Linked DNA regions of Homo sapiens: region 2 is linked to region 1. The links come from fine-mapping of genetic effects on gene expression. A gene starts in region 1. The other region holds a variant in brackets. All regions are shown on one strand. Distances are from middle to middle.

The links. PIP is the estimated chance that this variant, and not a neighbour inherited with it, causes the effect. A credible set is the group of variants that fine-mapping cannot tell apart.
Region 2: its variant is the best candidate, but not a certain one, in a credible set for the expression of ALDH1L2 in esophagus mucosa (GTEx, PIP 0.88).

What each region holds. Positions count from the first base shown.
Region 1 is chr12:105,081,888-105,087,233 of GRCh38, forward strand. ALDH1L2 (aldehyde dehydrogenase 1 family member L2) reads right to left here and starts at 2,571. Exons shown (of 23, transcript NM_001034173.4): 1 at 2,502-2,571. The coding sequence starts at 2,549. RefSeq lists enhancers at 1,414-2,214, 1,709-1,948 and a silencer at 2,449-2,878.
Region 2 is chr12:105,267,420-105,272,800 of GRCh38, forward strand. No RefSeq gene overlaps it. Among named protein-coding and RNA genes, the nearest start is that of APPL2, 34 kb to the left of the region's middle. The variant T/C (reference allele first, on the strand shown) is at 2,206.

The DNA.
Region 1 (5,346 bases):
ATTTTAAAGATAAAGGGATAATTAGGCCGGGCACAGTGGCTCATGCCTGTAATCCCAACACTTTAGGAGGCCGAGGCAGGAGGATCACTTGAGGCCAGGAGTTCAAGACCAGCCTGGCCAACATGGCAAAACCTCGTCTCTACTAAAAATACAAAAATTAGCTGGGCATGGTGGTGCATGTCTGTAATCCCAGCTACTCAAAAGGCTGAGGCAGGAGAATTGCTTGAACCCCGGAGGCAGAGGTAGCAGTGAGTCAAGATTGTGCCACTGCGTTCCAGCCTGAGTGACAAAGTGAGACTCTGTCTCAAAACAATAAAAATTAAAAGATAATTTGCATGGGTAAAATGCACCCTCTTCAGTGTACTGTGCTGTGAGTTTTAACAAACACACAGTCACGTAACCACTACCATAATCAAGATGTAGAACAGTTCCATTACCGCCCAAATTCCTTTATGCCTATTTATAATCAATCCTTCCTCCTATCTCCAGCTCCAGACATCACTGATCTTTTTTCTGTCCCTATAGTTTTACTCTTCCAAAATGTCAGATAAATGAAATCATAAAATATGTAGCATTATGAGTCTGATTCTTACACTTAGCATACATATTTGAGTTCCATCCATGTTGTATGCATCAGTAGTTCATTCCTTTTTCCCCCAACTGAGTAGAATTCCATTGTATGGATGGATATACCACAGCTTGTTTATCCTGTCACCAGCTGAGGACAATTTATTTCCAGTTTTTGGCAATTATGAATAAAACCTCTAGAAACATCAATAAACAGGTTTCTATGCGGGCAAATAAGGTTTCATTTCTTTTGAGTAAATACCTAGGAGTGTGATTCCGGGGTCATATGATAGGTTTATGTTTAACTACATATAAAACTGCCAAACAGTTTTCCAAAGTGGCTGTACCATTTTATATTTCCACCAGCCATGTATCTGTTTGATTTTGAATAATTCTTATAAAACACAGTCCAGAACATTTTCTACAGGATAAAACATCCCACATTTTTCATTCACCACTCAGTAGCTTCCTTTCGACCACTGAGGAAACTGTCTTCTTCCCAGCCATGAGTATCACTGCTTTTCCATATGCACCCCTGCGTACAGTTAGACCCTGATCACGCCAGTTCTTCCCCACATCCATAGTTTTGTTTATGCCATTTGCCACCTGAGATGTTTACCTTTTATTACTGAAATCTTATGCAAACCGCACTATCAAAATCTTTTCATTCTGCAAGACTTCCTTCTGGTCACCAAAAAAGACAAGTCAGTGAAAGGTGTTGACAGAGGAGGCCAACAAAACAGGCTCAGGCATTGGGCACAGCCCGTTGCTTTCTGTGCTATCCATCTGGGATCCCATGTGCCACGTGGTGGGGGAAGCTAATGAGGGGTCCAGGAGAGCAGGCCAAAGTCCTAGCAGAGCAGGTCTTCCCCACCCCCACCCCTCGTTTTATAAAAGGTGACTATACCTCAAAGTAACTAGAACTGGTTGCAAAGAGTAAAACGAATTCTTATTATTTGGGGTTGTCTGGGATACAGAAAGCTTTTCCTTTGATGCAAGTTTGGGCCAGTTTTTGGTGCTACTCAAGACTTCTCTCTGCCTCCAAGTTTTTTACATCTGAATATATACATATGTACATATGGCTTTGGCATGGCCGAGAAAAAGAATCGATAAGCAAATTCTTTTATGTACTTCCTATAAAAGATACGATACATAAGACAGTTTTTATTTTTTTTTTTTCTCTCTCTCTCTTCCCTAAACAGTCCCGAGGCCCCCTGGGTGCTGAAGGCAGCACCGCAGTGCAACGTGTCCTCTCTCGGTTCCATTTCTGGAGGAGCTGATGCAATTCCAAGGCGCGGGGCTGGGCCAGAGCTCGGTTCTTGTGCTACAGTAGAATAGTGTTCCAGCGTGGCTGCCTCTGCAGCGCCTGGCAATTCTAGAAATTTTGCCATCTGCAGCTCAGCTCAGGAATACTGAGCTTGCAGCCATCAGCTTTGAGTGCCATTATCTGAACCGGCCCTGCGTGCCAGTCTCGAGCGCTTACACCTCCCAGGCCGCCAACGAGGACCCTATTGACTTGATACTCCCCTCCTCCAGGAGACAGTCTCGGTTCCATATGGCTCCAGCTCTTGACCAGGGATCTCATGATTGAAGTGAAAAAGGAAAGGAAGCAGACTCTGTCCTCCTTACCAAGTGACTGTTCCCACCTTGCCATCCCAGCCAGACTTGACACGTCCAAAAACTGCATCCTCAGCCCCCTCCCGGCAGAAGACAATGGCCTGCGTGCCAGTTCCCATCCGGGACCCTCCCCAAGCCCTCCTCTGAGGTCTCTCTGTTTTTGTTTGTTTGTTTGTTTGTTTTAAACGCTGTCTTGGTGTTTAGCAAAGTCTAAGCATCGCTGCTCATCCCCAGCCCCACCGCCCCGGCCCTCCCGCCCCGGAGTCTGGAAACCAGGACAGGGTGACAGCCGGGACGCTCGCCCGGGCCGGACTCACCCGGCCAGTGGAGAAGCGCCGGAGCGCCTGGCTGCCCCGCCGCAGCATGCTGGAGAGGAGCGCTAGCACTGGCGACGCGGCAGCGCGGGAGGCAGGCGGGCGGCGCAGCCTGGGCGCGGCCTGGGCGCGGCCTGCAGTCTGGATGCCCCGGACTGCCTGGCTCGCGGCTCGCCGCTCTCGGCCTCTGCTAGTCCGCACCCCTCCCAAAGCCCACAGCCCGCGGCCCGCCCCACCCTACCAGCTGCAAGGCCCCGCCCCCTAGCTGTCAAGACCCCGCCCCCAGCTGGAAGGCCCCGCCCCGCCAGCTGGCTGCGTTCGGACAGCCAACCTGGTGCGACCCGGCGGAGCGCGTGGGCTTCCTGGAGCCTGTGGGCCCTGACCCTGGTGCCAAGAGCGCACCCAGTCCCAGGGACCGCGCCTCTCCGCTGCCTGGACTTTCCGCCAATTCCAGCCAAGGTCCAGGTGCTTTCTAACTGTGGGACCCTCTACCAGTTACTCAGCCCCGCAGCAGTGTATACGGATCTACCTTATTAGTGGTCAATCTGACATCCCAAGTGCTGTCCATAGCACAGCCCGTAAAAGGCACGCCTGTAGACAGATAGGTAGTGGGGGCGCCTTCGCTGTGGAGGGATCCTGATGCCTACCTCGTAGGACGGTAGGCCGGGCGCGGTGGCTCCCGCCTGTAATCCCAGCACTTTGGGAGGCCGAGGAGGGAAGATGGCCTGAGCTCAGGAGTTCGAGACCAGCCTGGCCACCATGGTGAAACCCCGTCTCTACTAAAAATAAAAAATAATAAAATAATAAAATAATTAGCCGGGCGTGATGTCGCATGCCTGCAGTCCCAGCTACTCGGGAGGCTGAAGCACGAGGATCACTTGAGCCGGGGAGGCGGAGGTTGCAGTGGAGCTGAGATCATGCCACTGCACTTCAGCCTGGACAACAGAGCGAGACTCTGTCTTAAAAATAAATAAATAAATTGGTGCAAAAGTAATTGTGGTTTTTGCCACTGAAAATAATGGCAAACCCGCAATTACTTTTGCATCAACCTAATAGATACGTGCCCTTCTCCCTCACCTCTCTGGAAAAAACGCTCAGACCTGCTTTAGCTGGACGTTTATCTCAAGCCAGACTTCTTAGCCCAGCATTCAGGGCCGTCTGCAATTTGCCATTTTCTCTTATTTCTCACTGCTCTTTTGCATATGTAATTCTGCTTGACTGCAGTTCTTGCCTATTCCTTCTTGGACAATGTTTCCCAGAAAAGCTTGTCATCTGTCACTTGTAATTATCTTGGCACGACCGTTTCTTTTCTGAAAGGTACCGCTTACATGCTGCCTCCTGGAGGCGCTTTTTTCTGATTCTTTTCTCTCTTAGTCTCCTTATTCCCCATAAATAATTGTTCACTCCTCTTAACAGGAAATAATCTTTGTCTATGCATCTGTTATGGCTGTCTCAATCTGCTACTGGTATTTGTATACCTATTAACGTCTCTGTTGGAAGCTCCTTGCAAGCTAAGTCCATGTCTGATTAATCAGGATTTACAGTATCTAGCACTAACCAGAGCTTTAAAAAAATAATAATAAAATAAAAAATAACTTGTTAAAAAAAAACTTGTTGAAACGGATGAATGTGTTTAAGAGAGTAAGGAGACAAAAAAGAACCATCATTAAAACTTGGAGAATTGCGGTTGGGCGCGGTGGCTCACGCCTGTAATCCCAGCACTTTGGGAGGCCGAGGTGGGCGGATCACGAGGTCAGGAGATCGAGACCATCCTAGCTAACACGGTGAAACCCTGTCTCTACTAAAAATACAAAAAATTAGCCGGGCGTGTGGCGGGCGCCTGTAGTCCCAGCTACTTGGGAGGCTGAGGCAGGAGAATGGCGTCAACCCAGGAGGCAGAGCTTTCAGTGAGCCGAGATCGCGCCCCTGCACTCCAGCCTGGGCGACAGAGGGAGACTCTGTTTCAAAAAAAAAAAAACTTGGAGAATTGCAACAAACATCCAAGGTTTTGCTTTGAGCCCTACATCTTGCCAATTCAACCCACTTTCCTGACTGCATTTTGTGACTTCTTGCTTTTTTAAACTTCCAAATATTGATATTCCCTTTATTTATTCTGATCTGTGTATACTAGAAGGGTGCATAAGGAGGGGTTTTTTTTTTTTTTTTTTTTTTTTCCTGAATGAGGTTCCATAGTTATATATTACTATTCCCAAGTTTAGGAAATGTAGAATTTATGTTCACTCAAATATAATGAAATATTCATTGTGTTTACTTTTTCCCTGGAAGAATCAAAAGTATAGTTTCCTTGATAACTGGAAATTAGATCAGATGCAATTAGAGTTTGACAAAGAGACCAACCCCTGCCAATCTATTTCTATACCCAGCAAAAATACTCCTTAAAAATAGAGATAAGACAAAGCCATTTTTAGAAACAAAAACTTGAGAGAATTTGTCATCGGCAGACAGACAATAAAGGAAATATGAAAGAGTATCCTTCCAGCAGGAAAAAAAAATTTACCCACATGGAAACCTAGAAATGCAAGAAGCCCAACAAAAAAGGCAAAGACGTGAGCAAATTTAAAGTGAACATTGGACTGGACGTGGTGGCTCACGCTTGTATTCCCAGCACTTTGGGAAGATGAGGTGGGCAGAGTTCGAGACCAGCCTGGGCAACATGGTGAAACACTGTTTCTACAAAAAAATACAAAAATTATACAAAAATTAGCCAGGCATGGTCACGTGCCTCTAGTCCCAGCTTCTCGGAAGGCTGAGTAAGGAGGATCGCTTGAGCTGGCAGATTGAGGTTTCAGTGAGCTGTGGTTGTGCCACTGCACTCCAGCTGGGTGAC
Region 2 (5,381 bases), 190 kb after region 1:
CAACCTCTGCCTCCCAGGTTCAAGTGATTCTCCTGCCTCAGCCTCCAGAATAGCTGGGATTACAGGCGCCTGCCACCATGCCCGTCTAATTTTTGTATTTTTTAGTAGAGATGGGGTTTCACCATGTTGGTCAGGCTGGTCTTGAACTCCTGACCTCAGGTGATCCACCCGCCTCGGCCTCCCAAAGTGTTGGGATTACAGGTGTGAGCCACTGTGCCTGGCCAAGGCTCCATTATTAAACCAACTACTGCTGTAGGCAATTGAAATGTAATTTCACAGGGATGTTCTAAAAAATGGCGTAAAAAACACATCTCAGAATAATTCTTCCTGAGTAGCAAGTGGCTAGGGGAGATACATTTGGAGGGCTATTGGAGTGCAGACAGGCTGTGGTCATTTCCTGGTGCTTCTCTGCACAAGCATATGTCAGTTAGAATAGCTTTCCATGGTTCCAAAAAGAGCCTCCAGGCCCTAGAGGCCCACACTGGGAGCTGTGTCATCAGCTGGAGCGTCGGTGAAGACTGTAAGCAGGACACTGGTAACAGCTGCTACATTAACCACTGCAATCATCCAGGTTCATCTGGTTCCTATCCCAGCCCCACCATTACCAGCTATAAGATCTTCAGCAAATTTGTAACCTTTCTTAAGACTCGGTATTAAAGCTTAAGAATTAACACCAGCTTATGAGGTGGCTGTGAACATCAACTAAAAAATGTGTGTCAAGTAACCCTGGCACATAGTTTCAATTTATATATATGCGTGTGAGTCTGTGTGTGTTTCTGTGTTTGTGTGTACACATAAAGACACACACACATATTTCTTGGAGTAGTGAGATAAGAGACTGCGCTCATTGAATGTAGCTTTAGCAAGGCTCACTTAGACCCGAGAGGGCTACATATTACCGACCACACTGTAAAAGACTGATTTTTATATCAGATCATCACCCCGTTATTGAGCATATAAAATGTAAACAGGATCTAGATTGGCATTCCCTGGGCTTTAAGAAACTTTCAAGAAAGTAATACAAGAGAAAACTTCTGTAGCTGTCAGATGGCTTCCTGGCTCTCCCTGCTCTTACTTAGGCTATGATTTGGTCCTATAAACAAGACCCAAGTCTGGCTTTTTCACTAGTGGGAGAGTGACTCTCCTCTCCTAGCAGTGGAGATGAGGAAACAGAAGGTGCTGTAGCTTTCCAAGGGAACTGTTTATCTCAAGATGCCTCAAGGACCTCCACGTTCTCCTCTCAGTTTGGGGCTGTGGCTTACTCCACTGCTAAAACAATGAAATCTGCCCCTGAACAATAATTGTTTTATGGAAAGAAAAATGTTGTCAAAAAAAGAAAATCTTCATTGTTTTGCAAAATCTCTAAAAGGACCAGATATAAACTGTTGATTGACCAGTGTGCTTATTTTTCAAATGGAAAAATAACACCTTTTTTAAAAAAGTGACCTTTCATACAAAAGATACTGAAATTTTACAGGTCTTTCTTTTTTTACTGAGATATTATTGACATACTGAGAAAAATCTTGTATTAAAAAAACTTTTTGGTATTAAAAAAGGATGGATAATAGCTGCATTTGGTTGGATGTAAAATGTTAGGATTCAGAATTTGATTTGGATTTTAAAGTCAATCAATCTTCCAGTCAACATTACTAAAGGTCCAATTGGCAAGAGTATAAACTAAAAGAAGGCAAAATATTTAACAAAAGTTGATGGTTATTGAGTTTTCAAAAGAATGTCACTTTCTAACAGTTGTTCTTGAGAAAGGTTTTGCAATATCATCTGGGTATTTTTAAGTAAAGGACCAAGGTTTGGTTTCTGGTTTGATGTAAGGGCAGTTTGAGCCAGAACCAAGAAATGTACTGGTTCACTTTTTACAGTCTCTTCTTATCCTACACTCCTATGGCCTGACTGCAGCGAGGGATATCTTGAAAAGCTACCAGTTCAGTGGGTCTCCTCTGGGCATTCATTAGTATACCTACTTTGTTCGTAGAATGATTTCTTTCAAGCCTGGAACCAGAGTTGATTTTTGTACATGCAATTTCTCCTAACTCATTTCAATGTTTTGTTTCTCATGATACATTTTAATCTTTCTTAATTTTAGCCTTTTTACTTAGTCACCCCAATTCTTCGAACTGTCTGTACGTGTGATACCCAAGGTCTTATACCCTATTCTGTTCAGAGGAATGACCAGACAACCCAAACTTA[T/C]AGCTTTCCACTTACAGACTCACTTAAGCCCTGCTAAAGTGGGACTGAGATTTTCTGATTGCTTCTCTATCTGTCAGAATTTTGATTTTTAATCCCTGTCTGCTGGGTTTCAAAGTTCATGCATTTTCTTTATATCACGCACCTCTCTTTTTGGGTGCAAAACTGAAAGACAACAGCCTTTATATTTTTGATGAGTGTATGACTAATGCTGTTGCATCTGGATCGGAAAAGAGGAAATTCATAACAAATGGCCAGCAGTAATCACCTCTAAAGTACTTGAAATTGGTTGGGAAAAATTTTCAGAAGCTTTCCCAAAATTTTCATTTACCTCTTCTAGTGATTTTGGAGTTTCCCAACATAGATATTTAAGATTTTTAAAATGTTCCTTATTCATTGTATTTGCTTTCATATTTACTTTCATTATCATCAATTGAAACATCTTGTTCCTGCTATTTTTTTCTGCAAATAGGTGAATTTGAACAACATCAAGGCATAAATAGGCCTCTGTGGGCTGATCTGGGAGCCCTACCATTTAAAAATTGTTTATAAGAGAAAACATGTTCCAATTCTAAGCAAACAAATTAAAACATAACCCTTTTGTACATTGGACATGGCTGATTTGTGCCAGGTTAAGAGTATAAATTAGAAGCAAGGCTGGCCAAATTCAAATTCCAGCTCTGTTTCCAGCTAGCTGTGTCATCCTGAGCAAGCTTCCTAACCACGCTGAATCTCTATTTTCCTTTCTTCTTACCTGGAGGACATAGTACCTACTGCAGAAGGTTTCAGAGAGGTATGAATGATGTAATGTACATAAAGCACAGAGTAAAACTTAATAAATATTAGCTATTTTGATCCTGTTTTTAAGGTCCCATTCAGGCCCCTGACTTTAGTAGGAAGGTGAGAAGGAGGAAGGCCAGGGTCTAGGCTTTGCTTCTGGGGCCACAAGTCCCTTCTAGCATGCAAGCCAATAGTTTATTACAGAAAGACTTGCTGTCATAAGGATTCCCTGTATGACCCTGAAAAGTTTCACCATCTTCTGTGCCTGTTTTTTCTTCTTTAGGATGGATGTCAGCAATAATAAAACCTTCCTCTCCTTAACTCACAGACCTACTGAGAAAATAAAGGAGAGACTCTCTGCTTGAGGTCTTTGAACTAATCAGTTCCACATAAGGTGTCATGAATCCCAGACTTGTGAAAGTTCACATCTGTAGTCATCCTTTTTCGGTGAGTGAAGTAGGGAGGGGGAGACCAAATTCCAGTGAGTACTGGAACCCCTGGCTATGGATCTGTGCTTGGGATTTTGGGCTCCTCACATTCCAATACTTACAAGCTTCAGTTGTATTAAAGAACTTGGGAGACAGATGGACTTGAGGTCTGGCCCCAGCTTTGCCACTTATCAGCTATGTGACTCTGAGCAAGCCACTTAATCTCTCAGAGATAATATCAGTATCACCCTCAGAGGGCTGTCAGGATGAAATGAGGGGGTGCACACAGCATATTTAGCACAGTGTCCAACACAGGCTTCGTGCTCAAAGTGTCAGATTTGATGATGATGATGGTGATAACGATAATTTTTGTTTATTTACTGCTTAAAAGTGTCCACCCTTAAATATCACAACCGTTTATTATTCTTTTCTTAGTTGCTCTGCTGCTGCAGTGGTTTGAAACACAGGCTCAGGCTCTCCAAAGATATTCCCTTCTCTAGTTTCTGATAGAGTCATTTTGAAACTATTGCCCTAATTAAATCGCAATGTTGGCTGTATATCTATTGTCTGTTTTATAAGCCACATAATTGTTAAAAGAGAGAGGATGCTAAACATCTCTTTCTACATTTTCTTCTTTCTTTCAAAGTAATGAGTTTTCTCATTGTTTTAAGGAATTAGTCATGTTGGCAGGGTGTGCAGATTGTCATTTTGATGGATCCTCATAGTATATGACAAGATTTGACAAAGAGTTTTCAAAAATCATTAGGCTTGTCAAAATTCTATTCTGTGCTTTGTCAAGAGTCACCATCCTATATTATACATCTGAGAGTTTGTCAGATAACAAACAGAGTTGCCACAGCTGGAGTTGGATTGTGCTCCTCAGGTCCTCTGCACCAACTTCAACCTGAAAAACTACAATTTTGTATCTTAGAATTCCAGGTAAGATTTCATTTGAAAAGAGGTTCACGGCTAAAACGCTTGTGCTTTTCTGCACGCATGTCTTTCTGTAGACTTAGACAGGAAATCCATTTCTAGACTGGGAAAAACATTTTAATTAGCCATTAGTAGTGGGTCAGAGGAGTAAAACAGGAACAATGGGAAGTCTAAGAGAAAAAGGGAGGTAAGTATAGACCAATAGACACAGCACATTGGAGTAGAAAAATACTTTTTTTTTTTTTTTAATCAGACAGGATCTCAATCTGTTGCCTGGGGGGAGTGCAGTTGTTCCCTTTTACTGGTGGAGGGTCTTGACTATGAGTTGTCCAGGTTCTTGGTGTTTGGAACGAAGAATTGGACAAAACACACAAACAAAGCACAATGAAAGAATGAAGCAACGAAAGCACAGATTTACTAAAACAAAAGTACATTCCATGGAGTGGGAGCCTGCTCCAGCAAGCGGCTGAAGAGGCTGGTTACAGAATTTTCTGGGGTTTAAATTCTCTCTAGAGGTTTCCCATTGGTTACTTGTTTACACCCTATGTAAATGAAGGAGTGGCCCACGACCAGACTGATTGGTCATGGGAGGTGACCAGTCAGAGGCTGAAGTGAAATTACAATGTTACACATGAAGAATTGGGTAGTCTGATTGGTTGTGGGAAGGGACCAATTGGAGGTACTTTTCATTTATCATCTACCATGCAGTGCAAAGGGAGTAGCCTCTGATCCTTTTGTTACTTGGGTGTGGAGAGGTGGGGTTTTTCTTTTGATTCAGTTCTAGGAAGTCAACAGCGTGATCTCAGCTCACTGCAGCCTCGACTTCCCTGGGCTCAAGTGATCCTCCTGCCTCAGCCTCCCAAGCAGCTGGTACTATAAGTGCATACCACCACGCCCTGGTAATTTTTGTATTTTTCGTAGAGACAGGGTCTTACTATGTTGCCCAGGCTGGTCTCGAACTCCTGGACTCAAGTGATCCACCTGCCTCAGCCTTCCAAAGTGTTGGAACTACAGGCGTGAGCCACTGCGCTGGGCCAG